Linked DNA regions of Homo sapiens: regions 1, 2, 3, 5, 6 and 7 are each linked to region 4. The links come from fine-mapping of genetic effects on gene expression. A gene starts in region 4. Each other region holds a variant in brackets. All regions are shown on one strand. Distances are between the middles of the regions. Region 1 holds the start of PITRM1-AS1 (PITRM1 antisense RNA 1). Region 2 overlaps PFKP (phosphofructokinase, platelet). Region 3 holds the start of LINC02668 (long intergenic non-protein coding RNA 2668). Region 4 holds the start of PITRM1 (pitrilysin metallopeptidase 1). Region 5 holds the start of SNORD142 (small nucleolar RNA, C/D box 142). Region 6 overlaps LOC105376360 (a long non-coding RNA gene). Region 7 overlaps PITRM1 (pitrilysin metallopeptidase 1).

Evidence for each region.
Region 1: its variant is fine-mapped to the expression of PITRM1 in tibial artery (GTEx, PIP above 0.99). The same link has a PIP of 0.9 or more in thyroid.
Region 2: its variant is fine-mapped to the expression of PITRM1 in whole blood (TOPMed, PIP above 0.99).
Region 3: its variant is fine-mapped to the expression of PITRM1 in pancreas (GTEx, PIP 0.97).
Region 5: its variant is fine-mapped to the expression of PITRM1 in blood mononuclear cells (TOPMed, PIP above 0.99).
Region 6: its variant is fine-mapped to the expression of PITRM1 in vagina (GTEx, PIP 0.98).
Region 7: its variant is fine-mapped to the expression of PITRM1 in T cells (TOPMed, PIP above 0.99). The same link has a PIP of 0.9 or more in CD4 T cells, aorta, atrial appendage, blood mononuclear cells, breast and caudate.

What each region holds. Positions count from the first base shown.
Region 1 is chr10:3,139,615-3,143,677 of GRCh38, reverse strand. It overlaps PITRM1 (pitrilysin metallopeptidase 1), which reads left to right. Exons shown (of 27, transcript NM_014889.4): 23 at 177-289; 24 at 2,866-2,991. PITRM1-AS1 (PITRM1 antisense RNA 1) reads right to left here and starts at 2,077. Exons shown (of 4, transcript NR_038284.1): 1 at 1,909-2,077; 2 at 590-706. RefSeq lists enhancers at 1,336-1,835, 1,836-2,337. The variant C/T (reference allele first, on the strand shown) is at 1,987.
Region 2 is chr10:3,127,958-3,132,023 of GRCh38, reverse strand. It overlaps PFKP (phosphofructokinase, platelet), which reads right to left. Exons shown (of 22, transcript NM_002627.5): 17 at 2,041-2,205. Among named protein-coding and RNA genes, the nearest start is that of SNORD142, 4.1 kb to the left of the region's middle. RefSeq lists an enhancer at 2,296-2,809. The variant GACC/C (reference allele first, on the strand shown) is at 2,506.
Region 3 is chr10:3,254,300-3,258,365 of GRCh38, reverse strand. LINC02668 (long intergenic non-protein coding RNA 2668) reads left to right here and starts at 847. Exons shown (of 3, transcript NR_187504.1): 1 at 847-1,222; 2 at 1,809-1,906. The variant A/C (reference allele first, on the strand shown) is at 1,843.
Region 4 is chr10:3,170,858-3,174,923 of GRCh38, reverse strand. PITRM1 (pitrilysin metallopeptidase 1) reads left to right here and starts at 2,142. Exons shown (of 27, transcript NM_014889.4): 1 at 2,142-2,207. The coding sequence starts at 2,152. RefSeq lists an enhancer at 592-1,129 and silencers at 1,328-1,487, 1,778-2,617.
Region 5 is chr10:3,133,687-3,137,752 of GRCh38, reverse strand. PFKP (phosphofructokinase, platelet) reads right to left here. Exons shown (of 22, transcript NM_002627.5): 20 at 3,171-3,270; 21 at 1,915-2,017; 22 at 951-1,303. The coding sequence ends at 1,174. SNORD142 (small nucleolar RNA, C/D box 142) reads right to left here and starts at 3,649; the gene lies at 3,455-3,649. PITRM1 (pitrilysin metallopeptidase 1) reads left to right here. Exons shown (of 27, transcript NM_014889.4): 27 at 1-25. RefSeq lists enhancers at 769-1,268, 1,269-1,770. The variant G/T (reference allele first, on the strand shown) is at 2,282.
Region 6 is chr10:3,728,308-3,732,373 of GRCh38, reverse strand. The region is part of intron 1 of LOC105376360 (a long non-coding RNA gene); the gene reads right to left. Among named protein-coding and RNA genes, the nearest start is that of KLF6, 55 kb to the left of the region's middle. The variant A/T (reference allele first, on the strand shown) is at 2,142.
Region 7 is chr10:3,145,921-3,149,986 of GRCh38, reverse strand. PITRM1 (pitrilysin metallopeptidase 1) reads left to right here. Exons shown (of 27, transcript NM_014889.4): 16 at 234-366; 17 at 1,696-1,816; 18 at 1,924-2,000; 19 at 2,250-2,415; 20 at 2,737-2,837. PITRM1-AS1 (PITRM1 antisense RNA 1) reads right to left here. Exons shown (of 4, transcript NR_038284.1): 4 at 1,358-4,066. Among named protein-coding and RNA genes, the nearest start is that of PITRM1-AS1, 6.4 kb to the right of the region's middle. The variant T/A (reference allele first, on the strand shown) is at 1,680.

The DNA of each region.
Region 1 (4,063 bases), 31 kb after region 4:
CCCCAGCACCTGGCTGCAGAGTGTCACGGAGATGGGACCCCTGAGATGGCTCCAGTCCCAGTGCCGTGGGCAGTGCGTGGGAGCACAGCCGCCTCTGACCCCTGAGTGGGTCCAGTCCCAGTGCCGTGGGCGGTGCATGGCAGCACAGCCGCCTCTGACCATACCGTGTCCCTCAGGAACCCACCTTCAAGCCCTGGCAGATGAAGACTCACTTCCTGATGCCCTTCCCGGTGAATTACGTGGGTGAATGCATCCGAACTGTCCCCTACACGGACCCAGATCATGCCAGGTAGGAGGGTGTAGGTCGGGACCTCTCAGGCCTGAGCCTTACGGAAGAGCTTGTCAAGGCTGTTCGAGTTCACAGGGCGTGTTTTAGCACAGGAAAAGTCTGTGCTGACTCTGAGTGTTGGACCTGGGGCTGTGTGAGTCTACGAGTGCTCCTCTTTAACCAGCAGTCTTTGTGAACAGAGACCCAGTTTTAGAGCCAGTCATTTTTGTAAACAATTTCTATTATTGAGGAGTCCTATGAACAATACAGATACCTATGACCTTAAACACAGACTGCTTTCAACATGCCCCATGTACTCACCTCATCTCTAGGTAAAAATCGAATGAATTTAGGCTGAGATTTCTGATAAACATGGTAGGTTAAGCCTTCATGAGGACAGATGCGTGAATGACAGCAAAGGCAGATCAAGACACGAAGCTACAAGGGAAAGAGTGGGAGGTGACCCGGAGAGCCATGGGGGCTGCAGGAGAACCTCGTGAGCCAGACTCTGGGTGGGTGGGGGGTGCCTGACCTGGGGCCACAGAGGGACAGGGCAGTGGGGAGAAACCAGGTGGTCCTGCAGAGCCCTGCAGATGGCAGGGCTGGAGGCCGCCTCACAGTCCCTCTAAGGAGTTTGTCTCCCCTGTCTCCCCACCAAGTCAGAAGCTCAGGGAAGGAGGCCCTGGGTTGAGCAGCCGAAGCCACAGCCAAGAGTCAGGGTCAGGCCTGTTCCCAAAGTGGCGTGGGGCGAGGGAGTTTGCAGCCTACAGACTGGCCCTCCAGCCCCTTCTTCCGAACTCTGGCTGCCCCTTGGCTGTGTTCATCCCATCTGGGGAAACTGGCCAGACCAGGACAGACTCACAGACGTGCACCTTTGGGGACCCGTCAGTTGGGTGTGTATGACACAGATATGTGCAAACATGTTATATCCCGGAAATTCACTTCCTGTGTCCTTGTCCCAGGCAGCTACCCCCATGAGGGACTAAACCAAGGAGTGAGCCTGGTAGAGAGGGGGAAGGCAGGCTTAGGCCTGGGCAGCCTGTCCTGATTGGAGAAGGAGCCGGGCCTCCGAGGTGCACGTGTGTCACAGAGGGTCACAGATGGGGAGGTGTGTAGGAGGCAGGCGGGAAGAAACGTGGGGCTGCAGTGGGGGCCCAGAAAGAGCTGGCTGTAGAAGTATGTGGTCAGCTGTTTTGTTCATTTATTTCCATATTTGTAGAAGATGAACAGATCTGTCTGCTATGCCGGCAGAAGAGTGGTGTCTGTTTCCACTATCCAACAGGAAAATGTAGACAGAAAACACTAAAAATGTGGAGGTTCCCCCTGGGCAGTGGGATTCCAGATCTTTTTTTCCTTGTGTTTTGTATTTTATAATCTTTCAAAAGTGAGCATGTTTTTAATATACAAGTAATAGAAATTTCTCAGGAAGGATAATGTGTGGACGGATGGAACGCCATCCCTGCCGGTGCTGGTGGAGACTCCGTCCCCCAGGGTCTGACTCCAGCCTCGCTAGTCCCGGCTGACGGCGCCCCAGCCACCCGAGTGGCGCTGGGTTTCTCCTGGAGGACCCACACGAGATGGTCGTGACTTCTCCCACCACAGCCCCTGGGAACACGCCCACTCCTTCCTTGATTTCCCACCTGGCCTATTTGACTCCCTTCATCCACTTTAGGAAAAGGCCTGTCTGTGGAAGCGGCGACCTGGGGCTGATCTCACCA[C/T]GGGCGTCTTCAAGGAGCCTGTGTCTGTGCTGCAGACCCTCCCATCATTGTCTGCCCCGCCTTCTGTCGGAGGTGGATGTGTTCTAGAATCAGCTTGAATGTGATGTTACCGTTCACAGTGGAAGGCAGAGGAAATTGGCCCTGTTCCTAGAAATGTGCTTTATCAGAGAGTGTGTGTTTTCTTAAGGGATTCTTATAAAACTCACTTCAGTTTCCTTTCTTTCCATATTCTGATGTGAGACATTTAAATAAATGTTCATTTGCTCATTTGCCTTTATAATAGAAATAACCTCTTTCTACTTCACGAGATTTTAAAAATGCCACATGTGCATTGGAACAAGTTAAGCAGTGTGGTGCTGGAAGTGTTAAGATTCCCTCCCCACCACCTCTCCCTTCAACCCTGTAATCTAAGCCAACTGTTTGAAAATTGTGCTTCCTTGTGCTTTTTAGTTTTGGTTAATTGAAAAGAAAATCTCATGCCTGTAAGCTCAGCACTTTGAAGGCAGGAGGATCACTTGAAGCCAGGTGTTTGAGACCAGCCTGGGCAACAAAGCTAGACCCTGCCTCTACAAAAACTGTAAAAATAGTCAGGCGTGGTGGCACACACCTGTAGGCCCAGCTACTCAGGAGGCTGTTGTGGGAGGATCCCTTGAGCCCAGGAGTTCAAAGCTGCAGTGAGCTGTGATTGCACTAATGCACTCCAGCCTGGCGACAGAGCGAGACCCCATCTCTTAAAAAACAAGACCAAAATATGGGACCATAATTTATGCAGCATTATTTTACAACTCGATTTTCATTTTCACTTAATCCAACAATTACTTCATTGTCTATGCTTTTTTATCAGCCACGGTATTAACTTGCATTTTTTAATCATTTCAGTCTTAAAATCCTTGCACGTTTGATGACTGCCAAATTCTTGCATACAGAAATTCGAGAAAAAGGCGGTGCTTATGGTGGAGGCGCAAAACTCAGCCACAATGGGATTTTCACCCTTTACTCTTACAGGTGAGTTTTGCTCTAGTTCACACATTGGGATGCACACGTCGTTTTAGTCTTCTACTCATGATTATCAGTGTCATTTTCTTCTACTGCAGTGAATTTTAGACAAAAGTTGTTCTGTGTGCTTCTTTTCACTCCTTGGGCACTTAGCCACACCCAGCAATGTCCTTTCTGGCGCGAGGATTAGGGCCAGCAGCCGAAACAGGAAGCATTCTGCCTTCAGTAAACCCTGGCTTCAGCCAGCATATTTTGGCAGAACACGGTAGTGCCTCCATCCGTGGGTTTGCCTTCCATGGTTTATTACCCACAGTCCCCCTCGGTCTGAAAATATTAAATGGAAAATTCCAGACATAAACACTTCCTAAGTTTTAAATTGTACACCATTCTTCTAAGCAGTGGGATGAAAGCTGACGCTGTCTACGGTACCTGCCTGTTGGTCACCCAGTAGCCGTCTAGGTATCAGATACGCTGTGGGTATCCAAGAGCTTCTGTTCACAGAACCCTTGTTTTACTTAATAGTAGCCCATCAGCGTAACTTTTATTACAGTATAATTGTTGTATTTTGTTAATATCTTGCTGCACCTAATCTATAAACTTTATCATAGGTATAGGAAAAAAACATAGTATCCATAGTGGCTGTCTGAGGTTGCAGCCCTGCCGTGGGGGTCCTGAAACACAGGCCCCAGGTGAGGGGGCTGATACAGCCTGAGAGCGTTCTTAGCTCATTTCAGTTGGAGGTGCCTGATGTGGATGCAGTTCTGTTAGCTTTCATAAACATAACACCGTTACTGTAAAGCAATATTCTTGATTTTCTATGGCTTTGCTGCCTAAGAGAACATGTATTCCAACAGTTTTTAAGAAGGAGCCAGCCGGCCGCAGTGGCAAGTGCCTGTGGTCCTAGCTACAGGAGGCTAAGGCGGGAGGATCCCTTGAGCCTGGGGAGGTTGAAACTGCAGTGAGCAGATTGCGCCACTGCACACCAGCCTGGGCGACAGTGAGACCCTGTCCCGTGGATGCATAGCTAGATTAGGTAGGTAGGCAGGCATGTAGGTAGATACGTAGGTAGCCATTGCCACTC
Region 2 (4,066 bases), 43 kb after region 4:
AAAGAGTGACCTGTGGCCTTTCTATGGAATCTCATGTGACGGCCTGATGAGCAGTGTCTGACCAAAGAATTTTGTAGACTCACATTCATACACAGATTTCTTAAGGAAAAGATGGTCTTAGAGTAAGAACATCCCCATTTCAGATCATGTTAGGAGGATTACAAGAGGGAGGTAATTCTCTAATGATTCATCCTAAGAAAATGGAGGTTTTTACATCTAATCAAATCTGTCACTGGGCGCAATGGCAGAATTTCACAAAGTAGGAGGCCAGGCATGGTGGCTCATGCCTGTAGTCCCAGCACTTTGGGAGGCCAAGGCGGATAGATTGCCTGAGGTCAGGAGTTTGAGAGCAGCCTGGCCAACATGGTGAAACCCCCGTCTCTACTAAAAATACAAAAAATTAGCCAGGCGTGGTGGCAGGTGCCTGTAGTCCCACCTACTTGGGAGGCTGAGGCAGGAGAATTGCTTAAACCCAGGAGGCGGAAGTTGCAGTGAGCCGAGATTGTGCCACTACACTCCAGCCTGGGTGACAGAGCGAGACTCCATCTCAAAAATTAAAGCAAAAAATAAAAATCTGTCATAATTTCTCTTAAGCCCTTGCCATGCTGAGCGCTGGTGAGGCAGGATCTTTGGATAGATTTCTGAAATACGGTCATGAGTCATGTAACAGGGGGATATGTTCCTTGAGAAATGCATTGCTAGGTGACTTAAGCCTTGCGCAAACATCCTACAGTGAACTCACACAAACCCAGGAGGCAGAGCCTGCTGCACACCTGTTGTTCCTGGCTACAAACCTGAATGTCTGGGACTGTTGAATACTGCAGGCAATTGTGTATCTAAACATGTCTAGATGTAGAAAAGCACAGTAAGAGATACATATTTTTTGATAAAAAACATCTTTTTATAAAATATATATTATAAAAATATATGTAAAAAGATATGTTTTTATAAAAGATAAAAAACTGCACCTGTTTGGGGCAGCTCCATTATAATCTTATGGGACCCACTGTTGACAGAAACATCATGATGCAGTGAATGACTCCACAAATATTTGACATGGTAAAGAAATTCGTGATTCACATGTCACATAATTAGTGCCAAGGCCCTTTTTACTTGATCTATTTGGCTCAGAAACAAGTAACATCCTAACTTTTTAAAAGACAATGGTGCTGGGCGCGGTGGCTCATGCCTGTAATCCCAGCACTTTGGGAGGCCGAGGTGGGCAGATCACGAGGTCAGAAGTTTGAGACCAGCCTGACCAACATGGTGAAACCTCATCTCTACTAAAAATACAAAATTAGCTGGGCGTGGTGGCACGTGCCTGTAATCCCAGCTACTTGGGAGGCTAAGGCAGGTGAATCGCTTGAACCTGGGAGTTGGAGGTTGCAGTAAGCCGAGACCACGCCACTGCACTCCAGCCTGGGTGACAGCAAGACTCCCTCTCTAAATAAAGACAATTGTTCAAGTTGCATTTTATCTGCCAAGGCCTGTCATCTTGCATGAAGTTTAGCAACTTTGAATGTTGCAGGGTCCAGGCCTGGATTCTGCTGTGTCGTCCAAGCAGGGGCAGACCGCGGGGTCAGCGACACCCTTCCCTAAAAGAGCCACAGATGCCGAGAAACCACGGTCATGTCTGTGTCCGTTTAGAGGCAGACGCAGCATCAGGGGCCTCAGGATTTAAAAGAAGCTGCAGCAACCTTCAGAGCCTGTCGCAGACGTGGGTGGTGACTGTCAGCGGAGGTTCTCAAATCATTGGTGACATAAGTGAGACAACATTAACTACACAACAGACTATGTCAAACAAACAAGCTTGTGTTTCACACATGAGACTAGAAGGTGTCCTCAACCAGGCACACCCACCGTCACCTGACACGCAGTAGGGGCACCTGGGCGATGCGAAGTGTATCAAGCGTGGCATGTTCTGTAGCATCTCCATCTCCATGCCCCTTGGAAAGCAAACCACCCTAGACACGATGATTCACTCCGCAGCACCCAGTGGATCCCAAGGGGACGGGCCCTGAGGCCAGCCCCGTCACATACCTGCAGATCCCTGATGTCGAAGGGCTCTTCGAAAATGTATGCGGCATCAGCTCCGGCCGCGAGCCCCCCCATGTTGGCCAGGTAGCCACAGTAGCCGCCCATGGTCTCGATGATGAACACGCGCCGCTTGGTTCCGCTGGCGGACTGCTTGATGCGGTCGCAGGTCTGGTCACAGAGAAGCGATCAGTCACTCCAGCCCAGGCCCGGGGCGCGCCCACCATCCCAGAGCTCCCCCAAGAGTGAGTGCAGCAAGGCCCCCCCACCGCGCCCAAACATGCGGTCCCAGCATCCCGCAGAGGTGAAGGGTGTGCAGCAGCCAGGATGTGCCCTCGGAGTGGGTGTGAACGTGGTCCCCCGCAACCCCACCATGGCAGCCACCTGGAGGTGACCTCGATGTCCCGTTTTGGGGGCCTGGCCATCTGCCGCTCCCTTCTCCCAGGCCCCATAGAAGGGGACGGAAAAGAC[GACC/C]CCACAAGCCAGCTCACTCCACGCTGCTCTGTGACTGTCCCTGCTGAAGCCGCTTTCACCGGACACAGACACCGTTAGGTGTTAGCTGAGATGTTAGGGGACTGTCCCCTGCCAGCTTAGTCCGTGAGAACCGCTGTGCTATTCTATTTTCTTCTGAAAAGCTCCCTGTGATTTTAGAGGTGCGGCCATCTTCCATCCATTGGCGAATGTTACATTTATGGAAACTCTACTCAAAGGCAGATGGTGGTTCTTAGACCCAGGCACCTGGGGAAGTCTTCCAGATGCACAGGCATCGGATCCCAGAGTGAAATGTCTGCCATCCGCCCTCCATGAGGACCCAAGCTCGGCGGGGAGAAAAATGGCAAAGAAATGCATCGGCCGCCTTCCCACCCATACATCAGTCCGGCTGCAACGCCCTCTTCCTGGGCCTCAGCTCCCACCCCGGGACCCTCCAATCCGTTCACACAGAAAGGACCCCATCTATAAAAAACATAAATCTGATCCAGTTCTTGGTTTATTCAAAACCCTTTGCTCACTTCAAGTACACATCAAGCCTTTGTCGGGAATCCCCGGCCCCGCCTGCTCCCGGCACCAGGTCCTGTTCCAGCCACCCCAGGTCCTCCTGGGGCCTTTGGATATGCTGGCCGCTGTGTGCATCACATTCCGGCACAGTGGTGGGCGGGAGAGCAGCCCCCAAAGGAATCCCAGTCCTATCCCTAATCCCTGGAACCTGGGAATGCTCCCTCATGCGGTGATAAAGGTGAATCCTAGGAGTACCCAGGTGGGCCTTAAATGCCATCACCTGCATCAGCAGATGAGGGGCGCAGAGGCTGAAGGCCCTGGAGCGGGATGCTGCACACCCACATGGAAGGAGGAGGCGCCAGGGAACAAGGCGTACAAGGCGTGCAAGGCCCGCAACTCTGGGCACCTGAACGGGCCACGAGGGACGCTCCTGGAGCAAACATTCTGGCCTCAGCCCATGGCTCCTGCGCTCCAGAGCTGTGGGAGAGAGTATTATTTTCCAGCCCCAGGTGTGTGGTCAGTGTCACAGCGGCCACGGGACACACAGAGGCACCTTCCTCAGCTCTGATCCAGAGGAAAATGTCATTTCCTCAGGAAAACACCACCTGGTTTCTAGGACCACAAAGTTCCCTCTGTCAGGGGCTCTCGGAGCCACCCCATGTCCTCTCTTCACAGAAATTATCCCGGTGTCTCTCCCTGCAGTTACCTTGTGGTTATTTGACTTGGGAGGATCTTCCTCACTAGGCTGCAAATTCCATGAGGACAGGAACTGTGGGCTGGGCTTACACCAGTGCACCATCAGCAGCACCCGGCCGAGCCCCCACAGCAGGCGCTCAAGAAATGCTTGTCTCTGAATGACATAAGCATGGTATTCCCCAGCCAGCCGTCCGTCCGTCCTGGTCAACGGCTGATCCTGCAGGATTCCCTAATGGGCCTCCATGGGACTCAGCCAAGAGTAAGAGCATGAAGTGGGGGTGTGGACTTGAGACTAGGAGCCACGTGAGAGTCTGTGCACCCAAGTTTAACACCCATTGGG
Region 3 (4,066 bases), 83 kb before region 4:
CAGGACTAGTAACCGCAGCTGAGCAGGCTTCTTTCCGGAGCCTCTTGTCCTCTAAACGGGTTTTTCTGGACACTTGCAGTAGGTAAGGAGGCTGTCGACTATGGAACTGAGCGAAGACAGGTTCGGGGCTCACCCTTACCGATCCGCTCCGCAAACCTCGGGAATCCCTCTGCCTCTCTGTTCTGTTGTTCTTACCTAAACAATAAGCTATCGGCCTCAGCTGTCTCCGGGAAACTTTGAACTCTAAGAGGGCAGGTTTTACTTGTTCTCCTCGAAATGCATTTCAGACTGGGAGTGGAGTGTGGGAGCGGGAACATTAAGTTAGAGCAGGCTGCAAACCCTCCACCTGGAAATGTGTCTGCACTGCTGTCACCAGCCTGTCTGGGTCTCGGCTCTGTCCTTCCCTTGGTGTGTCCTGGGGTAGGCGTTGAATGAGAAAACCATGGTTGCAGAGGCAACACATCCTTTCCTTGAACAGTGTGCACTTGAGGAACGAATTAAGACCCGTAAACAAGGATGAAAGCCCCCGCCCCGCAGACTTCAGCTCCTCCTCCATGAAGGACGCCGCCTGGGAGGTGAGTCCAGGCCGGGCCAGGGAGGGCCTCCTGTGGGAAGGTGCATTTTCACCTTACAGCCGGGAAGTAGACAGCTGCGTCACAGTTTCACTCATGCCGGTCTCTTCCTGTGCACATTCAATGTTAACATTATTCTGGCAAAAGCCTTGCTGCAGATAGTCTCTCCGGTCCCTCCTACATCTCTTTCCAGAAGACAGTTTAAAAGGACACATTTCATCACCTCTCAGAAGGGGTTAACATCACAGAATTCCAAGTCTGAGGGTGGAGCCCTGATCCTGAGAAGGTTTTGTTGAGTTCGGGACAGTATTTCTTTACCCATCCTTCATGAAGATAAAAAATGAGGCAAAATAGACACTAAAATGGTCTCTGACATCTCCTCATGCCACCAGACAAGGAGTAACCATGGTAACAAGAAGCCTAGAAAAATTGGGGAATGAGGAAGACCAGGAATGAGAGCTCCCCTCAGCCCTGGGGGGACCTGAGTGTCCACAGCTGAGCCTTCTCTGCTTCCCTTTTCTCTTCTGGATTCTGATGGAGGATATTTTCATCTTCCTCCCAAAATCATCAGAAAGCATAAGGACATATATAAACCGCTTTGCAAAAAGAGAGTGTATGGAATAAAAGAGAAAATGAAGAAGAGGAGAAAGGTAAGATACTCCTTACACACACACAAGACTAAAGGAATAACCTGGGCTTTGAAAAGAGCATTAAAAGTTTGTTTAATAAAATAGTCTTTGCTGCAAGAGCTTCTAAAGAGATCAGATATAAAAACCAAATCACTGGGATCTTTTCAAAGAAGGGACTCCCATCGTGCCCGTGAGGAGGTTGTCAGTTCCCCCAACAGTCCAGGAAAGATCCCCTGCGGCCCAGTGGCTCTGCTCACCCTGAGGCCATCCTGTTTGAGAGATTTGCTTCACCTGGGCTGGGAGGAAGAGGAAAGCTTTTCTGGAGAGCAAGCTCAGGAAACCCACCCTTCCCGAGTGCCTCCAAGGCCCCAGGAGCCTGGCAGTCCTGGCCTGGTCTCTCCACAGGCCGCAGCCTCCCTTGCTTTGCCCTCTTTGGTTTGAAAGTTTCTCAGTATACGTGTGGATTTCCACATAGCTTGGAGGTTTCTCATATGTCCTGTATGTATGTATGTTCCACCAAATCTGAACATTGTGTGTTTGGGGGGGGTTGTGTGTTTTCTGTTTTGTTTTGCCTTTTTTGAGATGGGGTTGTGCTCTGTTCACCCAGGCTGGAGTGCAATGGTGTGATCTCAGCTCACTGC[A/C]GCCTCAACCTCCCTGGCTCAGGTGATTCTCCCACCTCAGCTTCCTGATTAACTGGGATTACAGGTATGTGCCACAATGCCCAGCTACTTTTTTGTAGTTTTAGTAGAGACAGGGTTTTTGCTACATTGCCTTGGTTGGTCTCAAACTCCTGGACTCAAGCAATCTGCCCACCTTGGCCTCCCAAAGTGCTGAGATTACAGGTGTGAGCCACCACACCCGGTCCAAATCTGAACATTAAAGGCATGTATGTGTGTACATTAAATGTATGTCTATTCATTTGAAATGTATGCTTAATTAAATCTGAGACTGTGGACTAATCTATAAAACCAAGTCATTCAAAGTGAGGGCTAGACCCGGGATGACTGTCTACAGACAGAGCTGTATCAGACTGGGAGGACCAACAGTAGATGCTTAGGATCAAAATTCTACAGTCACATCTGTTTTAATTCCTAAAACCATTGTCAACTGGGCTTTAAAATAAGACCTACAAAATGCTATAAACTGCAATCTACTTGAGTCTATTTTAGTAGCAAGGAGAGGCACTTCAGGTTGAAGGAATGGGTTTGCTCCTCAGGATACCTCATTGAAAAGGGCATCAACTCGAAGCCAGAGGCTAAGTTGGAGGAAACAGTTCCCTGGGACTCTGGAAAGCCGCAAGCAGTAGATTCAGGCTCTCCTGGCTGTGGACTCAGCTCCCTCCCACTGTGTTCCTACCCAAGTCTCAGCTTAAGAAAACAGAAAACATTATGTTTATAAGCTTTCCTCTAAATACAAGCAAATGCATTGTGTATTTGTTTCCTGAATGGTTCAGTAAGGTCTGCACATCTAGAGATTTTTTTTTTTTTTTGAGACAGGGTCTTACTCTGTCACCCGGGCTGGAGTGCAGTGGCGCTATCTCAACTCACTGCAACCTCTGCCTCCCTGGTTCAAGTGATTCTCCTGCCTCAGCCTCCTGAGTAGCTGGGACTACAGGTGCCCATCATCATGCCCAGCTAATTTTAGTATTTTTAGTAGAGATGGGGTTTTACTGTGTTGGTCAGGCTGGTCGTGAACTCCTGACCTCAGGTGATCCACCCGCCTTGGCCTCCCAAAGTGCTGGGATTACAGGCTAGAGCCACTGCTCCTGGCCCCCGGTCATTTTTGCCACAAACATTGAGCTCAGATTTGGCTGGGCCCCGCCTCTCACAGATGAGGGAAACAGCAATTTTGCATGTCTCTGCTCTAAATTTCGTGACCACCAGAAGCTGGATGGAAGTAGACTGCACCTGGGCCTGTCTGCAAAGTCAGGTCTCTTTTGTAAATATTTTGTATCCCTTGGCTAATTACACAAAGCATTAGTCTGATCTCACAGTGTGGGAGGTCTGTGACTTTGCTGACTCTTGATGCCAGCCCATAGGCAGACTGGAACATTTCAAAATCATTTTTTAAAAGTTCGTGAGAGTAAAATATAATGAAAATTGTTCCTAAAAAACAAAACTGTAAAATAGCTGTTGACTCTTTTAAAAAATAACAGAAGTAGCTCAAGATTCTAAAAACAGCAGAGGAGATTGTTCTGTGTAACCAGCAATGAGCAGGCAGGCTGTAGTGATGATCGACATCTGTGTTTGCAAGAGCCAAAGGGTGCCGCTCTTTTACGGGTCTTGGAAATAAATCTTCGGTATGTAGATAGCTAAGAGCTGACCATTGTGTCTCCATTTCAAATTGTGTCCTTTTAATGTGGAAGAGGATTTATGAACTTTATTATCAACATGTAGCTTGTTGAAAATCAAATTTTTGTTTATTTCAGGAAAGCAGAAGTACTCAAATTATTTTATTAGACTTGATGAAAAATGGGCTGGTTGTGCTCAGAGACTTTGATTCTGATTCTAGCTCTCTAACCTTCAGCACTTCTCTGCTATTTCTCTTTTAGGTTATATTTTTAAATGAAAAAATAAGCAAAATCCTCTGCAGTGTTGAAAAAAAGTTGAAGAGCTTGGTCCATGGGTAGATTAATAGATAGGAAGATGATGGACCAACAGATGGATGAGTGGGTGGGTGGGTGAGTGGAGGGGCGGATGGGGGAATAGGTGGATGGTTGGATAGGTGGGTAGATGGGGGGATGGATTGATAGATGGATAGGTGGATGGGAGGGTAGGTGTGTGGATAAGTGGGTGGATGAGTGGAGGGGTGGATGGGGGAATAGGTGGATGGTTGGATAGGTGGGTAGGTGGGTGGATGGAATGA
Region 4 (4,066 bases):
TATCTCCCTAAAATGTATAAAAGCAAGTTGTGGCCAGGCGCGGTGGCTCACGCCTGTAATCCCAATACTTTGGGAGGCGGAGGCGGGCAAATCACGAGGTCAGGAGTTCGAGACCAGCCTGACCAATATGGTGAAACCCCGTCTCTACTAAAAATACAAAAAAAAAAAAAATTAGCTGGGCATAGTGGTGGGTGCCTGTAATCCCAGCTACTCGGGAAGCTGAAGCAGGAGACTCGCTTGAGCCCGGGAGGCTGAGGTTGCACTGAGCCAAGATTGCGCCACTGCAATCCAGCCAGGGCGACAGAGTGAGACACGGTATTAAAAAAAAAAAAAAAAAAAAGTTGTGCCACGACCATGTTGGCCACATGTCATCTGGACCTCCTGGGGCTGTGTCATGGGCATGCCCTTAACCTTGGCAAAATTAACTTTCTAAATTGATTGAGACCTAGATCGGATATTTTGTGTGCACACACCCAAATTCTCCCTAGAAGACGGGTGATGCGCAGAGCGTGTTTGTGTCTGTCGCTCCTATTATTGCCTGTGTTCTGGTTCCTTTGGGCTCTTCAATAAGGAGGTACGTGTTTACCTGCAGCCCAGAACTGGCTGCCCTATGGAGAGTTTAGGGTAGACACGTTGGGACTTTTTCCCACAGTATTACCTTCCACATTGCTTCCAAAGTTTTAGCTTGTTCAAGCCGACTGCAGCCATCTACTTACCATTTAATTTTTAATTTTTTTTTTCAGAGCCCATTAGGAGACAGAGGGAGATTTGAGCCTGTTTGTATTCGTGATACAAGGGGAAAAAAAGAGGGAGAAGGTGAAGGGAGGAAGGAAGAGAGGCTCTGAGAAACCCGGAAGGTCAGACTTGGTGCGGACTTCCTCCAAGGGCTACCCCACCCTCTCCAAGCGTGGCTAATCCCAGGGCCCCTTCTGGCCCACAGTGCAGAACCACCCACTCCTACGGGGGCCTCCTTCAGCCTCTCTGGGGGTTCCCAGAAGGGCCCTTGGGCACTTGGGCAATGTCAGGGGGCTCAGGTGCATCTTCCTAGACACGAAACGAAGAGGAAAGCGGAGGCAGCAGCGGGGGCCACAGGCTCCCATGCAGCAGCTCGGAGCTGTGCTGTGCTTCGCTGGCGGCCATCCGTGATACGTGTGACACCGTGGGGCCCTGGCCCTGGGACCTGCCATGCAGCCTTGAGATCTCATCCAAGAAGCCCCCAGACCCCAAGGTTCAGGCCTGGCGGGGCAGCAGAACGCCTTTGGAGCTCAGCTCAGCCCTACAAACAGGACCAACGCCCACACCAAGGCCAGAGAGGGCTACCAAGTTTCACCTGGCCCAGCTTCCGGCAGCCCCCAACCAGGCCACTACCCTCACCTGAACACCGCGGTCCATCACCAAGCCCCACCCACTTCTGCCAGCCCTGCCCCCACAAGGACCCACCTCTCGCATGCAAGCCCCGCCCCCAAGGCCCAGCTCACCTGCAGCCCCGCCCCACCAGGCTCCACCCCATCGCCTGCAAGCCCCATCCCCAAGGCCCAGCTCACTTGCATCCCCGCCCACTAGGCTCCACCCTGTCACCTGCAAGCCCCGCCCCCAAGGCTCAGCTCACTTGCAATCCCCTCTCCCACTGGTCTCCACTCCTCACCTGCAAAGAGCCACCCCTCGCTAAGCCCCTCCCATCACTTGCACAGCCCCACCCAACACAGCACGCCATTCCAGGAGCCCCTCTTTTCACCAGCGCAGCCCCGCCCTTCACCAGGCCCCACTTCATCTGCATACACACGCCTCTCGCCACGCCCCACTTCTCGCCTGCCCACTTCCCCCTCCTATCATCTGTCCACATCCTGCTGCTGGCCGAACCCCGCCCCTTTCGGCAAGACGGCCCCGCCCCTTTCTACCCGTACCACGCCCCTCGCCTTGCCCGCCTCCTTCGGCACGTCGGCCCCGCCCCTCCCGCCCATCTCCGTCCGCACCGCCCTCCCGCCCGTCCCAGAGCAGTGGAGGCCTACCCTTTTCACCTACAGCCTATCGCAGAGGACGTCGCTGTTCGCGTTGACCAATAGGAGTGGTAGCTGTCACGGCAAGCCCCGCCCCGCGCCCTGCGTCGGGTTAAGAGGGGGTTCCTCGCCAGCCAGGTGCTCGTCATGCGCAATGTGGCGCTGCGGCGGGCGGCAGGGCCTGTGTGTGCTGAGGCGGCTGAGCGGCGGGTGAGACGCTGCGACGGGAGGCGCTCGGCGCGCTGGTACCCGGGAGGGGAGGGTCCAGGGCAGGCCGGAGGCGTAGGGGTCCTCGTCCCTGCGCCCGGGGCTGGCAGCTCCCCAAGCTGTGGGCGTCCCGCACCCCGAGCCCTTCCTGGAGCTCCCGCATCCGAGGCTCCGAGGCCGGAGGACCTCGGAGCTCCTTCCTACTCCCAGGGGCGATGCCCCGGGCTGGGGGCCGGGCCTGCCCGCGGCGCTCCCGGCGGGGCCCTCCATTAGCGTGGGCTTTAACGGGGGTAGTAAATGGGGTCGGCATTTGCGGTTCTCGCTGACAGCTTTGCTCCTAGTTCATTTTTGTTGGGAGGCCGAGTCCTTAAGAGACCCGAGGCGCCCACAGCCCATACTTAAAGTCTCGCTGTGTTCAGAGAACTGACGCCTCCCGGAATTGAACTGTTTTGTTTTTTTAATGACTCAATTTATGGGGAAAAAAATGACGAAGCAGTTTAGTGTTCATGGTAATCCACGAGCCCGTGTTTAATATAAGGTAATAGTTCAGCGCTGCCGGCCCAGGCCGGGAGGCACGGGGCGTCCGTGGCATGAGTTCGGCCTGGCCTTACCGCTCAGGAGTTTCCTATCATGTCCTTGATAAGTAACTTCTTAAAACGCTTCTGTCCCATAATTCTGAAATTTGCTAAATCAGTAAGCAAATGTTGGTTATAGCATATCTTCATAATATTGCCAGTGACTGAATAGGTTTTTTCTTCCTGTACATATTATCTTTAAAATAAATATTTCGGTGGGATACATTAATGTAGAAAATCCCATACGACATATAATACAATTGGAGAGAATAATAATTACGTGTTTTTTAAGAGCAGGGATCTTGCTCTGTTTCCCAGGCTGGTTTGATCCCCCTCCTCAGCCTCTCGCATTGCGGGGTTACAGGTGTGAGCCATCTCATTCAGGTGAGAATAATTATTAGAAATAGGTTGGGCGCGGTGGCTCACACCTGTAATCCCAGCATGTTGGGAGGCCAAGGCGGGCAGACCACTTGAGGTCAGGAGTTCAAGACCAGCCTGGCCGACATGGTGAAACTGTCTCTACTAAAAATACAAAAATTAGCTGGGCGTAGTAGTGAGCACTTGTAGTCCCAGCCACTCAGGAGGCTGAGACAGAATTGCTTGAACCCGGGAGGTGGAGGTTGCAGTGAGTCGAGATTGCACCGCTGCACTCCAGCCTGGGCAACAGAGTGAGATCTGTCTCAAAAAAGAAAATTAGTGTCCCTGTGACCAAGTTGAAGATTCCCCTAACTGCTCGTAACTCTCTCCCTCCCTCTTAGATTATCACGGTCATAACATACAGAAATGTCCTTGCTTTTTTTTTTTTTAATATTTTACCATTTTTATGCGTTCTGACAATGTCTTGTTACCTATTTGAATAATACCTGTTTAGGATAATACTGTATCATGTGTATCTTTTGTTTCACGTTATGTGACCCATATCTTTGTTACATGCCACTGTAGGCCCTTATATTGGTAAGGTTTTTTTTTTTTTTTTTTTTTTTTTTTTTTTTTTTTTAATTGAACGATTAGTCCGCACTTTATCCATTCTCTGTCGATACACCTCCGGGTGAGTTGAGTTTGGGACTGTCAGGGTTCGTGCTGACATTTTTGTCTGTGAGTGCTGGGGCCGCAGTGTAAGGTGTGGACGATAGAGACCAAGAGGTGAATGGATTTCCAATCTTCAGCATTTTTTTCTTTTTTTTCCGACAGTCTTGCTCTGTCACCCAGGCTGGAGTGCAGTGGCGTGATCTCGGCCCACTGCAGCCTCCACTTCCCGGGTTCAAGCGATTCTCCTGCCTCAGCCTC
Region 5 (4,066 bases), 37 kb after region 4:
AAAATAAAGGGCAACTCTGACTTAACCTCTGCTTGAGTCATTATTTTAAGCAGCATTTAGGGCCTTTATTTAAAAACAGAAGTAAAATGAAAAGGTGCACAAGGGTGTCCCACGTCTGCCTGCGCTGATTCAGGAAACTCCATCACACCGAGGCCCTGGGGGAGTGTCCACCAGACGGGAGTTCACCGCGGCGGCTGCATGGAAACCGTCCTGAGAAGCAAGTGGGTTGGGGTGAGTAAGCGCTTGCTTCATCGTTACAGAGCCAGAAAGGAAAGCCTCCGCGCTAGCTCTTTCTTGGCTGTCGGACTCTGATTTCCCAAACAGAGTTTGTTTTTGGCCTCTCCTCTCCCTCCACCCAGCTCTCTGCCCCCATTTCTGAGGCGCAGCTGTTCTCTCTTGCAGACTAGAGCTAAGAGGCAGAAACGCTGTCCCTACAGGAGGGGGGCCCACCAGGGCAGCAGGGCTGTCATCCCAGCAGCCGTGTCTACTCTGGCAGGAGTCTTCCGGAGAGTTCCAACCTAGGTCCCAGCGAGGACTGTGGCTTGGCCTGGAGGAGAAGCTGGCTATCAGATTTTTGAACCCACCTCCGCCCCACCCACCCCTTGGTGGTTTTAACATGCAGCTAGGATTGCAATCAAGAGGACAAGTAACTAAGATTCATGTTTTACTTTCAAAGGAGAGCAGGAGCCTGGGGTCGAGGCCCAGGGTCCCGGCCTGCTGCTGTGGATGGAAACTGACACATGGCAGATATGGAATGGTGAGTAAACGTGGCCTTCCCCTTGGCCTGTGTGAACTCCTGGCTTTGTTCTCCTTGTATGACGTGTGCATAGTTCAGTGATCCCTATAAAAATATTTTGCTAATCTTTGCCCACAAAACTGAGAAAACCTTTAGTAGCCACCCATAGATTGAGGTACTAATCTCCTACTTAAAAAACTAAAACAGAGGACTGTTGGAGTCATAGGCAAATGTTTAATTAATTCTGCTCATATGCACATCTGAAAGCATGAGACACACTCCACAGACAGCACGCACTGGAGCAGGTGGGGCAGATGGGCACTCGCCGATTAGGTATTAATGTCAATAATACGTGCATAAAGTGCTGATAAAATAACTTAAGTGTTACAAAAACAGACAGTCCACGGTGGCTGCAGGCACATGCAGGCGGGACTGGGTCAGACACTCCAGGGCTGCACATGTTCCAGCTGGCCTGAGTCCGACACGTCATAGCTGGCCTTGTACTTGGCCAGGATTTTCATGAGGGGCCGTAGCTTGAGCCACCACTGTTCTTTGGGAATCCTGTGCCTGTGGAGGTAAGAGGAGACAGCAGTGAGGCCTGCAGTCACTGGCGGGAGATGCCTCCGCCTGGCCAGCACAGCGAGCGGTCTTGCCAGAAACACAGGGTTTGTAGGGTCGGCTGAATCAACTAGATGATAAAGCCAATTTCAGGATCAAATGAAACCATTGTTTAAAATTATTCCCGAAGACCCAGTGGTGGAGTCTCGCTCTGTCGCCAGGCTTGAGTACAGTGGTGCAATCTCAGCTCACTGCAACCTCTGCCTCCCGGGTTCAAGCGATTTCTCCTGCCTCAGCCTCCTGAGTAGCTGGGACTACAGGTGTGCATCACCATGCCTGGCTCATTTTTGTATTTTTAGTAGAGATGGGGTTTCACCATATGAGCCAGGTTGGTCTCGATCTCTTGACCTTGTGATCCACCTGTCTCGGCCTCCCACAGTGCTGGGATTATAGGCATGAGCCACCGCGCCCAGCCAAGACCTAGTATTTTTTTAACTGAGCTTCAGAAAAGCCAGTTCCTCAAACCCCTGAATGAGTTGCCGACAGCAACAGCAATGGCCATTCCCCTGTCCCGTACTCACATTGGGGTCTTATTGCCTCAGGGAACCCAGCCAACTTACTCAAAATCCGTTTGCTTCTTCAGCTCTGCCACAGGTTGAAAAATAACGTTTCTTTTGCTTATTCCCAGCACACAAATGGAATCATCGGTGGTAAATTTTTTTCCTATAAAAGATTTTAAAAAAGATTAATAACACCCTGTCAACATGGGCAGGTGGGGGAGCAGAATCACGGGGCGAGATGAGAACTGAGATTCCTCAGAACCATGCTGAACCCGGCCTGGAAGCCCAGTGAGACTGAGAACAGCCGCGCAGTGGGGCCAGCACCTGGCCTCGTGCAGCTCTGCTCCTGTGGGACTGCCCCGAGGGCTTCCTGGAAAGCAGCTTTTGTTTTTTCCTCCCAGTGGAGAGAATTTTTCACTAAATAGTG[G/T]AATAGGGAAATTAGCTTAAATTACAGGACACTAATTTATGCTCACACATACACACACTGAGAGGCAAAAAGCATCCATAGCTAAATTAGCAAAAGAAAATCGCTGTAGAAAGAATCAAAGCCAAAGTCAGTTCTTCAAAAAGACAAACCCATTGAAACTATTCACATCACTGGTTTTTATAGACTGTCATTTTTCTAAGTTGGACACTGGCAGTGATAGTGGTTTGCCGGAATAAAAGCACACATCTGCTATGACTGATTAAGAAAGCTGAGGGGGGTGGGGGTGAGAAAGATGCTGGCACAAAGAGCCACTCAGGAATGAGTGGGGAACAGCCATGTTGGAGCCATTAACAAGAGTATTATAAAAAAGTCATGTTTCTTGAAACTTCAGTTTAAAGATTTCTTAGAATATGTAACTTACAGAACTGATTTAAGGAAGAACATGCACAGTTCTACGAACATGCAGTTCTACAAACATGAACAATTCATTCAGCAGTCAGATCTTCCTCAAAACTGGAAGTTTTGATGGATAGTCACAAGGAGGTTGTCCTAGCAAACATTCAAAAAATAGAAGGCCCCACTTAAACTGTGAGGGGAAATTGCTGGCCAACGTTCAGGATCTCTAGAGCAAAAAGCCTGCACAAAAGAACTGCAGACTGCATCTAGCAGTGATAAAAGAGAACATGTCATACCCAAGCTGATCTTATCCCAGGAATCCAAGGTTGGTTAAATAGCAACACTCAGAGATCAGGAGTAAAACATCACGTGCAGCTCAGTACTGAACTGAAGAAGGAACCAGCACCCTACTTCTCCCCGATAGGACAGCATTTTCACCAAGGCAGGACGGCCTGCATCACGAGGCTGTGGCCTCCCTCCCCAGACCCCTTACCTCTGCCCCGGGCCTCCTTGAGTTTTGCAGTGATCCACTCCATAGCTCTGGCAGAGATTTTGGTTCCAAAGTTTCTATCAAATGGAGAGGGTGCCCCACCCTGTTGGTGGTTAGAGTTATATGAAATACCAGTTATACAGTAACACTTTGCTGTTAAATAGAAATGACAATTTCTATTTTGCAGAATTCATGTTTTTATTTCTAGGTCCTTATAGTTGGAACAGAACAAAACCTGTGATTCCCGTAGCCTGAACTTGGCCTGTTAAGAAAAAGTATCAAGTGTTCCCCCCGCTCAGTAAGATGAGGATTTTAATAAACCGAACAAGTCAACTAACAATCTTCATTATTTTAAAATCTTAAATCAGGATTTCATGAACTCATCTGAGCTGGGGATGGGTCACAGCTTTAATCTGATAACCGTTGTGGATTCTTTAAGAAGATCACACATATGCCTACTATTTCATCATCATTGCAGGGGATTCATGGGCTCTGGCTTAAAAGTATAAGAATAGGAGGTGGTGAGGAAGGAGTGTGTGCAAGTTAGGAGGCCTGGACCCTGTGTCCCAGGCTCAGCTCATAACACGTGTGTGCCTGTGTGCAGCTCATTCCAGGTCATTCTGACTTGGGGTGTCAAGTATACTACATGTCTGATAATCCATTTTAAATCTTAGGGAAGCTCCAGTTTTTAACTTGATGAAGTGTTTAATTTGAATAAGCATTTCCAAGTAATGGGGGTATCACTGTTTTCATGAAAGCTGACAGTTCCCTTAAAATCCCCATTACTCAAACCTCACCAACAAAAGAATCCTAAAGCTGGTGATGTTTGGCATCACTTAAAAGTTCAGATGTTTTGGCTGGGCACAGTGGCTCAGGCCTGTATTCCCACCACTTTGGGA
Region 6 (4,066 bases), 560 kb before region 4:
ACATGGATGGCAGCAGGCAAAGAGAGAGAGAGATTGTACAGGGAAACTCCTCTTTATAAAACTGTCAGATCTCATGAGACTTAATCAGTATCATGAGAACAGCATGGGAAAGACTTGTCCCCATGATTCAGTTACCTCCCAGCAGGTCCCTCCCACAAAACGTGGGAATTCAAGATGAGATTTAGGTGGGGACACAGCCAAACCATATCAATAAAGGTATAATTTTTGTCTATATTATGTCATATGTAATTTTAAACAAGATCTAAATGAATTTCCTCTGGAATCTTTATAAATTCACTTACAAATATACCTTGAAAATAAGTGAGTGAGAATAGCCAAGTGCAACTGTGAATTTTAAAAAAGAAGAGCAAGAAAGGGGAATTTAACCTACCAGGACACATAGACATGTAAAACATATTCTCATAATACTGTTTGGACAAAAATGTAATGTAATGCATGTAATTATTGTAAGGTATGTTAATGTAACACATAGCCGCCAAATTAACCCTAGTACATGGAAAAATCTAGTATCTTTCTCTTTTTGTTGATTTATTTATTTGAGACTGAGTCTTGCTCTGTCACCCAGGCTGGAGTGCAGTGGTGCACTCTTGGGTCGCTGCAACCTCCGCCTTCTGGGTTCAAGCAATTCTCTTGCCTCAGACTCCTGAGTAGCTGGAATTACAAGTGCCTGCCACCATACCTGGTTAATTTTTGTATTTTTAGTAGAGCCAGGGTTTCACCATGTTGGCCAGGCTGGTCTCAGGTGATTTGCCCACCTCTGCCTCCCAAGGTGATAGGATTACAGGCGTGAGCCACCACACCCGGCTCTTCTTCCTTTTAAAGGTTTTTAAAATAACAAGTCCAAGTCTCTATTTCCTATGAATAGGCCTAATCACTGATTAAATCTATGTCGATGCTGATGTGTGCAAATCCCATCATGAGGGTATTTGGTGTAAAAGTGGAGACAGTTTTCAGTTGTGTGAGTGATGAGCATTGTGTACATATACATTTGAGACTCTGAGCTTGAATTCTTCAAATTTTCACTAAATCTTCCCCCAAATAACATGCATCAGTGGGTAGTGAACTGTCCTGTCCTACTGAGCCTGGTAAACTGGGTTGCTAAGTTTGGAAAGCCCAGCGAGTCCTATGGAGTGGGAGTGCTCTGTGTTCGAGAGGAGTCCTCGTCATCACTGTGGCGTTCTCCTGGCTTCTTCAGAATTGTTCCTGTGTCCACACACATAGCAACCTTAATATGTAAGTGCTACAAAATTACTTACGTACATGTATTTCTTTATTTTGATATATGAAGGTGTTTGCTATCTTGACCCAAATCTCTGAAGTGAAAACCCAGAAGAAGGTGAGTATGTATTGAACTATATTTTAATATTACATGAGGCTCTTCTGGGCCCAAGGAGACATTAAAAGGGCATAGGTACTGAGGCAGTAACTCACTAATGAGCCACCCTGGCAGTGTGCAAGTCAACCCAAAGTACTTAATGGGATCTCAGGGAGCGGCTGAAGCCCAAGAAAGGTCCAGCTCATTACGTGTGGCCACTAGCTCAAACCATTTAAGTCATGTTTATTTTATTATTTAAGGGAACTTATGCTTTTGCAATACTAAACAAAGAGCAACATAGATGGGACATCTAAGTAGAAGAACGAGTTTACCTGCCATATACACACCATAGGCCATAACTCCTAATTGACCTAGAGGAGGAAAATAGAGGTGATAATGTATTCACAGATCTGCTCATTTGTTTCTTCACAATCATTTCTGAAAGCCGAATATATTCCCGCTAGAAGCTGAAGGCGAAAAGGTGAATAAGACTGTCCACTGCCCAACGACACCCACTGCCTTGCGCTGAACAAAGCAGTCCACTGTGGAGTATTTCAAGGGTCCAGCACAGCCTGATGAGGATGGCTAAGTGTGGGAGGTTAGCTGTGGAGGGGAGACTTCCAAAGGGGACACGATGAAGGCTGGGCCAATGTCAGGACAGAGTCAGGAAAACCGTGTTGTCTGCGTAAAGAGGGCGGCGGCCTCACGGCGAGGTTCACCCTGGTTTTTCTCCTGGTCAGACCCAGGGCACCTGGCCTGCGGGGCTGCACCCATGGCTCTCCTCTCACCCACCCCTGGGACATCA[A/T]TGTGGGAACTCTCGCTCCAGGAAATCTTTTAATTTCATGGTGCTGTGAAGACAACCCAAGGACCCTACTTAAAATCGCAGCCCTGCCACCTCCTCTGCCACACTTGACCCCTCCTGTCCGGCTCTACTTTTTGTTTTTCCAGAGTGCTTACCACCTTCTCCCATACCATTGCACGCATTCATTACATTGCATATTTACATTTGTCTTCACTGGCTGTAATACAAGCCCCTGAAGGCAAAGGATCTTCATCTATTGTATCCACTGATGTATTTCAAGCTCCTCAAACCTGCCGAGAACATAGTAGGTACATTGCAGATATTTGTGGAATGAATGAATACAAATATTAGATAGGTCAGGAAATCTAAACAGCTAGAAAACATGGCTTGAATACTACTCAGCTAGAACCAAAAGAGACGAGAGAAATGCCGGTGTCCAGTGTTGTCATGGAAACACATGCTGCGGTGGCCACTGCCTGGCTGGGACTAGGACCCCCATCCCCACGGGCTCCACTGAAGGCCCCTTCACCCTCATGCCTGCAAGGAGAGGCAGCCGTGTGCGGCGTCCATCTCCTGCTATTTACCAGCTTGTTGGTGGATCTGCCTGTTTGACAGAAGCTCAGTGGTCTGAGTCATCTTAGTGGCAAGAAAACCTGTGAAATGTGGTTTTGAAATTTCCAGACTCTATAAGACCAAAAGTCAAGGAGAAAAGGGCTCAGAATGGGAAGCCAGTGAACCAGTGCCTGGTCTTGCGGCCGCATAACTCCACGTATCCAGTGAGACAAACCTTTTCTTTCTACGGCATGCTTTTGATTATACTGCCAGGTTATCCCTATTTTCTCAGTCCATTCTTTTTTTTTTTTTTTTTTTTTTTTTGAGAGACAGAGTCTCACTCTGTTGCCCAGGCTGGAGTGCAGTGGCGTGATCTTGGCTCACTGCAACCTCTGCCTCCTGGGTTCTAGCAATTCTCCTGCCTCAACCTCCCTAGTAGCTGGGATTGCAGGTGTGTGCCACCAAACTCAGCTAATTTTTTGTATTTTAGTAGAGATGGGGTTTCACCATGTTGCCCAGGCTGGTCTCCAGCTACTGAGCTCAGGCAATCTGCCCGCCTCGGCCTCCCAAAGTGCTGGGATTACAGGCGTGAGCCACCGCACTTGGGCTTCTCAGTCCATTCTTATAGCATTTTAAGGTATGAATACATTATTATTAGCATTTGATAAATAAGAAATTGAAGCTGAAAGACATCCGGTAATTTCTCAAGGACAAGTGATCTAAGTTAGTAAGTGGTGAAATCAGGCTTTGAACTCAGGCAGTTTCATTTCAAAGCCCCTGCAGGCTACCCATGCATATGCAAGCTACCCAGGTCCCTGCTTTAGTTTATTTGTAATAGGAGAAGAAAAGATGACACGTGTATCCTAATCAGGCTATGGGGCACTTTGAGTTTCTAGGCTAAAAAATGCCACGCAGAACCAGCTACGTCTAGCCAAAGTCCTAAAGCTGGCAAAGTTTATTCTGCAATCATTTACTTATCTGTGGGCCTCTGTACCACTTAGGGTTGGGCCCAGTTGTAAATGTGGTATTGACAAGGGATAGAGAAATAGATGATTGGAAATTGATTTATTCCTTTTGTAGGAGAAAAATGGACTATTTAGTAAATGATAACTTTTAACCCTTATTCATTCATCCAGAAAACCAAAATGAAAATGAAGAAATTAGATCTCCACTTCATATCGTGTGTAAAAATCAATTCTAGACTGATTAAAGTCTTAAGTGTAAAAAGCAAAATTAAAAATTTTAAGACAATATACAAAACAAAAATCAATATGACTATGGGATTTAGGAAGTTTTTTTATTATCATTTTTTCGAATGTCTTTTTAAACAAGACACAAAAATACACACCATTACGTACATGTAAAAGATTGATATA
Region 7 (4,066 bases), 25 kb after region 4:
GTTCGTGGTTCCATCCTTCCGTTCCCATTCCTTGGAGAGCACGGGTTGCTTTACTATTGAAGACAGTTCCAGTTTTTAGTCATGAAAATATGATTGGGAAATTTATATAAACTCTAGTATAAGTCTTAAACCTCCATTCTTGAAAAAACAATAAATAGCATTGTTTTTAAATATTACAAGTGGTTAGAATTTTACTGGCAGCAATAAAAATTAAATCCCTTTTGTTTTTCTAGCTGGAGATATCCCTGTTCAGTACTGCGCCCAGCCCACCAATGGCATGGTGTATTTCCGGGCCTTCTCCAGCCTGAACACACTCCCCGAGGAGCTGAGGCCCTATGTGCCCCTCTTCTGCAGCGTCCTCACCAAGTACGAGTCGCAACATACCCTTGTGTGTCTTATTAATGTCTGCTTTGTGTGCATATCTGTATTCTAATGCATCAGTAGGAATTACCTTCAGTGAATCACAACTTACAATGTTAGTGTGTAAGTATGGTGTACAATATATTGGTTTAGAATTTTTTATGAAAGTAACATTTTCTTACTATATTACATTGAAATAGTTATGAATCTACGGTATAATATAAGGAGATACTTATAGATCTCCATCTCAGCCTATGAAGCTTTGGAAAGGATTGATGGTTTAATCCGAAAATGTAAGTAATTGGATGTGCAGTGTGGCCTGGGGCTGCCTTAGGAACAGGTGTGCCTGCTGCGTGCGTGGCTCCTCCTCCAAGCCGACCCTGCAGTTGCTGTCGTCCTCCCTAGGTGGGGTGTGCACAGATCTGGAAACACACACACGAGTGCACACATCAACACTTGACTTTTTGCCCAGCTCTGCCGTGGCCGAGGTTGCAGGACAAGCAGTAGACAGGGCTGTGGGCTCCTGTTCCCATCCAGAATAATAGGGCGACAGGGAACCCTGCAGCCAGCTTCAGGGACCACTGCCCAACCTGACATGCAGCTGGGGTCTTCCCTTTGTGGAGATGAAGTTGTCTGCATGCTGCAGAAAGCTATGTGGCTGTGACACCTTCTGCACCCTGGCTGAGGGTCCGCTCAGATGGAAAAATGTCTTCAGGGTTTTGAAGGTTCCCTGCCTTTCTTTTTAAATATAGCTGCCACTGTTCATCCTTTTGTAGCGGTTTAGAAAACACCTCATGGTCATTCCCTTGACTCAATTATTGCTGGCATTAGCAGTGTCACTGTGAATGTTTCTTTCAAAAGCATGAGTGCTGAGAGGAAACTGCTTTTCTTAAAAACTTAAAAAACCTTTAGTCTTCGGACTCCCCCGCCCAGGCTACCAGACATTCGAGCAAAACAAAGGAAGTATGTATCACGGTGATCTGGGTGAAGAGAGTAGGGAGTAGTCATAAAACATTTATTGAAGAGCTTACAACTGGAAATGCCTATTTTAGAATGGTGTTTTAAGTGCAGACACTGGCTGCCCAAGTGTCTTGTGCCTCTGGACGCTAACTTCCTAGGCGGGAGAAACTGGGGTCTCCCTGGGGAAGGGGGCACATGAACTCTCGAGGGCGAAGGCCAGAGTGCACCTGCTTATGACCTTCGAAGTGTAGAGAGGTTGGCAAAGCCGCAGTTATTGAATTAATGGAAGCAACTTGTAACTCAAGATGCACGATTTTAAAAATGATTCAGTAAAGACTGACTTGTAATCGGGGCGATGC[T/A]TCTCTGCTGTGTCAGGCTGGGCTGCGGCCTTCTTGACTACCGGGAGCAGGCTCAGCAGATAGAATTGAAGACCGGAGGGATGAGTGCTTCTCCCCACGTGCTCCCCGACGACTCACACATGGACACCTACGAGCAGGTAGCCTGGTACCGTCAGACGACTGCTGCGGTGGGAAGCTTTTCTCCAGTGTCTGTCACTGTTCGATTCGGCCCTAATTCCTTTCTTCTGTGTTTTCTTTGGTTCAGGGTGTGCTTTTCTCCTCTCTCTGCCTGGATCGAAACCTGCCAGACATGATGCAGCTATGGAGTGAAATATTTAACAAGTAACTTTATTTGCAAGAGTTGTCCATTCTTGGGGTGTACTAGAGATCTTTGTTTGAAGTACTTTAAAGGAGACAGTTTTACTCGTGTGTGTTGTTGTTTTCCAAGTCTGACTTTTACTTGTAGTTCATATGGACTTATAAAATTTCTTTGGTTGTTAAAGTACTCTGAAAACTTAATCAACTTTCCATGATACTGAAGGGACGTGAGGAATGGGTCTCCAGGAATTTTTTCTTCTCCTTTTTCCATAGCCCGTGCTTTGAAGAAGAGGAGCACTTCAAGGTGCTGGTGAAGATGACCGCCCAGGAGCTCGCCAATGGAATTCCTGACTCTGGGCACCTGTACGCATCCATCAGGGCAGGCCGGACCCTCACGCCCGCAGGGGACCTGCAGGAGACCTTCAGCGGGATGGATCAGGTGGGAAGCTTGGAAGGAACCTCTATTACTCCGGTTTAGCCACATATTCCAGAGTTACTAATTTCTTTGGGAATACATTAATTTATGTCCCAGAAATGCTAACTTTCTAACTGACTAAATATGGGGAAGAATTGGTTGGTTGGTTTTGACTCATCTTCCTCTTTGTACCACCCTGCATCCCAGTTCCAGCCCTGCCCAAGCCGTGCACTCGCACACATAACCCCTGCCCAAGCAGGGTTCTGATGTCACAGGTGCTTGGTTCAGACTCAGCGGGTCTGTTGTAGCCTCTGCCTCTCTCTGAGCGAGTTTCCTCTGGCTTAGGTGCGGCTGATGAAGAGGATTGCAGAAATGACAGATATCAAACCCATCCTGAGGAAGCTCCCGCGTATCAAGAAACACTTGTTAAATGGTGATAATATGAGGTGCATGTGTGATTTGTTTCTAAATATTTTATGATTCATTCTATTAAGTATAGTTTTTAGGTATTTCTTACTTGTAGAAACTTCAAGATAGAGTGCTTGGTAAAGGTTATAGAATTTATTGTAAATGTCAAGTGTTCTAACAAACTAAGAAAATATTTTAAGCCTATTAAAAGTTGTAGGAGATGGGGAAGAAAGCAGGCTAATTTTGTGCTAGAAGTGCAAATAGATTGAGGGCAAGTAGTTATATTGCTTCCAAAAGCACATGGTCCGTAACTGAGGTATCTGTAAAGGTGAGCTTGCTGAAGACCAGAGTAAAAGTGCAGTTTCTTATAAAATTATGTGATGCTTTGAGGAAACATCTGGCAGCTCAGTCCTATACCTTCAGTTGGCCTTATGCCCTCAGATGTGTGAGCATGAATAAAGTTTAAAAATGATTGTTTATTTTCAGCATCTTATTGTCAGTGACATTGATGTATTCATCAGTACTTAACAAGAAAATGTTTGCTGAAGTCACTTGTCCTTCTTCACACAGAGTCCTGATGCCTTTCCCCAGTCATGTCCTGAGAATCCCTGGCAGATTCTACAGGGCGGTCTGTGGGTGGCCAGAGGTGAAGCCTGGCGATCAGGGTCTCTTGGCATTGGGCTCAGGCAGGCCTGGCTTCTGGTGCCGCCGGGTCAGCACTCACACTCGCTCCCAGGCGGTCCTGGGCAGCTGACCCACTTGCGTCTTCTGCTTCCTCCTCCATAAAACCTTCCTTTGCAGGTTTATCGTAAGGAATAAAAGAAAGAATATCTGCAAGGCAGCATACATGCCTGGGATATAGTTAGTATTAATATAATGGTACCTGCTGTTACTTTAACTAGAATAAGTTCAGGATTTACAGCTGAAAGGAAAAAATATACACTCTGTCAATATACTGTAGAGTTCAAGTAGCTTTTATATGATAGTAGTATTTGCAATTCTGTGGAATTTGGAAGAGTTCTATTTTCATGTAACTTTGAGAGCATGGTATTTTTTTGCAGTTTATAATGTTCTGCTTTAACAACCAGTTCACATTTTCAAATTGATGACTTCTGGACAGTAATTTTAAAAGTTGTCAGTGTTTTGATAGTGTAATTCCGAAGGCACGGTTAGCAGATCTTAATAGTCTCTGTATTTTCTTTGCTCTTCAGAAGAACTAGAGTTTAGAGTCACAGGCTCCGCGTATGGACGGCTTCATTAGCTGCCA